2 linked regions of the Homo sapiens genome follow. The protein of the gene in region 1 purifies or fractionates together with the protein of each later gene. This does not show direct contact. Each region holds a gene or a part of one and is shown in the gene's direction. Other genes may lie near its edges.

The links. Proteins that work in one complex are often made in the same cells at the same time.
Region 2: the proteins of SP7 (region 1) and PITRM1 purify together in Homo sapiens (affinity purification with mass spectrometry; one large-scale study listed by BioGRID and IntAct). This does not show direct contact.

The regions. Positions count from the first base shown.
Region 1 is NC_000012.12:53,329,855-53,333,354, reverse strand, and holds part of SP7 (transcription factor Sp7), read left to right. Parts: intron 1-3,500. UniProt on the Homo sapiens protein: Transcriptional activator essential for osteoblast differentiation. Binds to SP1 and EKLF consensus sequences and to other G/C-rich sequences.
Region 2 is NC_000010.11:3,137,228-3,139,505, reverse strand, and holds the end of PITRM1 (presequence protease, mitochondrial isoform 2 precursor), read left to right. Parts: intron 1-456; coding exon 457-602; intron 603-1,168; coding exon 1,169-1,271; intron 1,272-1,381; coding exon 1,382-1,475; 3' UTR 1,476-1,778; downstream 1,779-2,278. UniProt on the Homo sapiens protein: Metalloendopeptidase of the mitochondrial matrix that functions in peptide cleavage and degradation rather than in protein processing. Has an ATP-independent activity. Specifically cleaves peptides in the range of 5 to 65 residues.

The DNA.
Region 1 (3,500 bases):
GTTTTGTTTTGTTTTAAGGGTGGTGGGGTGGAGGTCGGGAGGGAACAACTCGAAGGTGGGACTGCTGGGCCCTGGAAAGGGAACACATTTGATCAGGTATGGGGACACATGTTTAGAACTCTTAACCAGTGCTCTTTCCCCAAGTTCTCAGGAGAGAACAATCAGCAAGAGAAGGAAACTGAGGCTGTGGTGAAACTTAGCCACGTGCTCAGCCTGTAGCCCCCAGAGCATTCTGAGTGGGTCTGGTTCCTCGCTCCCCATTCCCTGCCCTCGAGGGCCCTCTGGGCCTCCACTCCCCAGGGCTGGGGTCTCCTGTTGGCCTGGGGCTGGCTGCCTTCTTTCACCCCTCCTTCCCTCCCCACAGCTGGGTGGGGTCCCTGGGCTTGGCTGAGGCCCCTGTGGCCGCAGTGTGAGGGCCGGGCGGGGGACGGCGTCGGCGTTTTTAAAAATAAACCGACCGCAGGGAAACCATCGGAGCCGGGCTGGGCAGAGGGAGAGGGGGCGGTCAGGGGGGAGAAGAAGGGAGGAGTGGCCTGGTCTGGGGGTTTTCTGGGGCCCAGCACCATGGTGGTTTTCTCTTAGGTAGGAAGGCCGCCTTCTTCCTCCTCCTCCCCCTTTTCTTTTTTCCACTCCTTTCTTTTCTTCTCTGCTTTCCTTTGCTTTTCTAGCCCAGTCTCTTTTCCATCATCTCTCCTTCTTAGTTTGTGTCTTTTTACCTTTCTGGTCTTTTAGGTCCCTGCCTATTTCTGCTTCTTTTTTGTTGTTGCTGTTGTTTTTGAGACAGGGTCTTGCTGTGTTGCCCAGGCTGCAGTGCAGTGGCACAATCATAGCTCACTGCAGCCTCTAACTACTTAGCTCAAGTGAGCTTCCCATCTCAGCCTCCTGAGGAGCTAGGACTACAGGCATGCACCACCAAGCCCAGCTAATTTTAAAATCTGTTATAGAAATGGGGTTTCACTATGTTGCCCAGGCTGGTCTCAAACTGCTGGCCTCAAGCAACCCTCCCCCACTTGGCCTCCCAAAGTGCTGGAATTATAGCTATTTCTGCTATTCAATGCCAATTTTTCCTCTCAGGTCCTCCTTCCCCCATTGCTATGGGTCTTTTTTGTCAATCCCTTACCCTATGCAGGTCCTTTGTGCCCCATATCTCTGGGTATCTGCCTCTCTGCTTTGAACTCCATGTTTCTACCTCTTCTTTCTGCTAGGATTTGACTCCTCCCCATCAGCTACCCTGCCATAGCTCACCCGCTGCTTGGAAGATCAGGGGTTCCCGGGAAACCCTGACTGGGGGAACCGTGAGTGTTCACTGTGGTTAGACTGGAGAAAACTTTTGGTGGCTCAGTTTGGGAGTCAACGGGACCTTAGAGAGAGGCAACTGTGCAGGAAGAGCAGCAGGTTTGCACTTGGGGTGTAGCGCAGAAGTGGGGACTGCACACATGCCTCATGGCAACCCCAGGGCCCCAGGCCCACCTCTCGGATTGGCATCGTACACATACTACATGCTAAGAGCTACCAGACAGGTGTGAGAACTCTGGATTCTTGAGTTCTTTTCTCAGCCTTACTGGGAAAGGATCAGGCCCATATGAGTTTATGAAGAACCCAATCCTCAAAACTGTTCTTCTAGCCCTTTCATACCCATATAACTGTATAGGGGTAGATTTTGAGGGCATCTTTTTTGGTGGGATTCCCAGCAATGAATGACCGTCTATGCCAGCCAGGGATGCTATAGGGCATTTCCTCCTTGGATGCCTCACCCAGGGAGAGGCACCATCAGGAACCATGAGTTCCTGAGAGGTAAAGATCTTGAGAGTGGTTTGGCCTGGTAGCAGCAGCATGGTGGGCATTAAGAAGATACCTTTGCCTTTCTTTTTTTTTTTTTTTTTTGAGATGGAGTCTTGCTCTGTAGCCTAGGCTGGAGTGCAGTGGCACCTTCTTGGCTCACTGCAACCTCCACCTCCCAGGTTCAAGCAATTCTCTGCCTCAGCCTCCCGAATAGCTGGGATTACAGGCGCCTGCCACCACACCCAGATAATTTTTTTATATTTTTAGTAGAGATGGGGTTTCACCATCTTGGCCAGGCTGGTTTTGAACTCCTGATCTAGTGATCCACCCACCTTAGCTTCCCAAAGTGCTGGGATTACAGGCGTGAGCCACCGCGCCTGGCTAGAAGATACCCTTGCATTTCTAAAAGACTCCCATATACTACATCCATGTCTTCCTTCATTCACAGTGCTAGAAGGACTACATGTTAGGGGACACTGAGGCATGAAGCAGTGTGGCTGTGGGCCAGTATCTTAGTTACCCCATTCCTTGCCTTGGAAGGGCATGACGACTTTGGGCTCTTACAGCCCTCTCAAAGGGGTACCAGCTGGCACCACAAAGCAGGAGGTGCTCACTGCCTGCTTGAAAGGCATTCTTGTCTCAGCCACAGTTTGGGCTTGGCGGCAGCCCTGTTCCCTCTCAATGTCCCAGTGTCTCCACCATCACTTCCTCTTGCTCTCCAGCCGGAGTCTCTGCCAAGAGATTCCTTAGCAGGGACATGAGGATTGGACCTCAGGGAGACAAGACCACTGCCTTAGTCAGGAGCTGAAGCAGCGACAGGAAATGGAATATCGGGTATGGGATGAAGCTGGGAAAATCTGTCATGGGAGCAAATATAGTCCCCTAATACTTTGACCTTCTCCCTACACTGCACTTTGAGCCTCATCTTTCCTCTCCAAGGCCCTGCCCATGGCCTCGATCTGCTCCAAACCTACTTCCAAGGGTCAGGATCCCCAATTCTCACTTCACCTAGCTGCTGTCTCTATCCCCAGTTCTTCTCACAGCCATTTAAAAAGAGCCCCTGGTGTGTGCCTGTAGTCCTAACTACTCTGGAGGCTGAGGGTGGAGGATCGCTTGGAGCCCAGAAAGAAGTTTGAGGCTACAGTGAGCTGTGATGGTGCTACTGCACTCCATCCAGCTTGGGAGACAGAGTGAGACCCTGTCTCTAAAAATATTTTTTTGGCTGGGTGCGGTGGCTCACACCTGTAATCTCAACACTTTGGGAGGTTGAGGTCAGGAGTTTTGGGTCACTTGAGGTCATCAGTTCAAGACCAGCCTGGCCAACATGGTGAAACTGCGTCTGTACTAAAAATACAAAATAGCTCAATGTGGTGGCGTGCGGCTGTAATCCCAGCTATGTGGGAGGCTGAGGCAGGAGAATTGCTTGAACCTGGGAGGCAAAGTTTGCAGTGAGCCGAGATTGGGCCACTGCATTCCAGCCTGGGTGACAGAACAAGACTTTGTCTCAAAAAATAATTTTTTTTTTAAATAAAAAGAAAAGGCCGGGCGCAGTGGCTCATGCCTGTAATTCCAGCACTTTGGGAGGCCGAGGTGGGCGGATCACCTGAGGTCAGGAGTTTGAGACCAGTCTGGTCAACATGGCAAAACCCTGTTTCTACTAAAAATACAAAAAAATTAGCCAGGTGTGGTGGTGGGTGCCTGTAATCCCAACTCCTCCG
Region 2 (2,278 bases), on another chromosome or scaffold:
TTGCATTTACACGAAGGGAAGTCTGGATTGGCCCCCTCAGGCTGATTCCTGTACTACCCTGGGTGTGTCTTCAGGGAGATGAAAGGAAAACCTTTGTTTGCTTAATTTTTCCATGTAAGTCTTTGTAATTTCCCTGTAATCCTGACCTGCCCCTACCCTCCACTGACTTTCCTCTCCTGATGAGGTCACAGAGAAGTGTATTTAAATAATCTAGGGAGGACTTTGTGCAGACAGACCTTGTCTAAGAGGGAGAACATGTTGAAAGGCTTATGTGATCAGATTTAAATTTCCATTGAGAGTAATTGAGCGATTTGTCAGTGGGCTGTTTGGACTAAATCAGATATAAAATAGAGCTGTTAACCCATAGAAGATGTTGAACTGTTAAGTCGACAGAGGTTTGTCATAAACTTGTCCACTGGTAAAATGCTTGCCCGTTTATTTCTCTGGGTTTCCTAGGGACCCAAATACAATAGAGACGCTCCAGTCTTTTGGGAAGGCTGTCGACTGGGCTAAGTCTGGAAAATTCACACAGCAAGACATCGACGAAGCCAAACTTTCTGTCTTCTCAACCGTAGATGCTCCTGTCGCTCCTTCAGACAAAGGTATTTTGAGTATAACAGTGAGAATCTCAACCCACAGCCTCACAGATGACGTTGCTGTTTTCCAAGTTCCCGGCATGCATGGGCAGGAGCACTAGCTTCTGGTGCCTCCATCCTTGCTTGTGATACGATTTCCACGTCTGACACCCTAAACACGCTTCCTGACATCCGGGCGAGAAGAGTGCATCCTGTCATTTGTTTTACTGACCTGAGACCCAGTGGGGCCAACCCATGGCAGTGTCCGGGCTCTTTAGGGTGGAAGGAGGACGTGGGCACGGCCCGGGCATGGCCACGTTACTCTCTGGAGCCGCTTTTGCTCACAGCATCATCAGCCTCACGCGGCGCTGACTGCATCCCTGCTGCAGAAGCAGGCGTGGGTAGGGGTCAGCGTGGCACGTGGGAGCTGGAGGTCGGGGTGTGATCTCTGGGTTGTTAGACACATCCCTGTGGTTGAAACATGCACGTGAAATGACAGTGAGATGCCTGTGTCCCCTCCGGGACATGAGTGCACAGCCCACAACGCGAGCTCCCGGGCAGCGGCTCCATCGTGCCTGTGGATTGTCTTCTAGGAATGGACCACTTCTTGTACGGCCTCTCGGATGAGATGAAGCAGGCCCACAGAGAGCAGCTCTTTGCTGTCAGCCACGACAAGCTCCTGGCCGTGAGCGATAGGTGAGTGGGGAGCGGGGGAGACAGCGTCTGGGACTGGAAGCCCTCGTGCTGACTCTAACAGCGCTCACGCAGAAGCCAGTCCTTGCTGACCACGCCTGCCTTCCTCTCAGATACCTCGGCACTGGGAAGAGCACACACGGCCTGGCCATCCTCGGACCCGAGAACCCGAAAATTGCCAAGGACCCATCCTGGATCATCCAATGAGCAGCCGTGGCGCTCGACTGCACAGGAGCCCGAGACAATACACCTCCGAGCTGAATATGAAAAGTCAGAAATGCTACTGCTTTTTCCAAGAATATTATGTCATTGAGTGTCGCCAAAGCCCTTGACTGGCGAGTCAAAAACTCAGATCTATCTTAAGAGTGACCAGGAAGAGGTTCATTGAAATAATCATGCATGAAGCGCCAAAGATGCACCATGTAGAATTTTCACTTTGTACTGGCAGGCTCGTTTTACCTCATTCTAGAATATTTAAGAATCTAAAAATAAAGGGCAACTCTGACTTAACCTCTGCTTGAGTCATTATTTTAAGCAGCATTTAGGGCCTTTATTTAAAAACAGAAGTAAAATGAAAAGGTGCACAAGGGTGTCCCACGTCTGCCTGCGCTGATTCAGGAAACTCCATCACACCGAGGCCCTGGGGGAGTGTCCACCAGACGGGAGTTCACCGCGGCGGCTGCATGGAAACCGTCCTGAGAAGCAAGTGGGTTGGGGTGAGTAAGCGCTTGCTTCATCGTTACAGAGCCAGAAAGGAAAGCCTCCGCGCTAGCTCTTTCTTGGCTGTCGGACTCTGATTTCCCAAACAGAGTTTGTTTTTGGCCTCTCCTCTCCCTCCACCCAGCTCTCTGCCCCCATTTCTGAGGCGCAGCTGTTCTCTCTTGCAGACTAGAGCTAAGAGGCAGAAACGCTGTCCCTACAGGAGGGGGGCCCACCAGGGCAGCAGGGCTGTCATCCCAGCAGCCGTGTCTACTCTGGCAGGAGTCTTCCGGAGAGTTCCAACCTAGGTC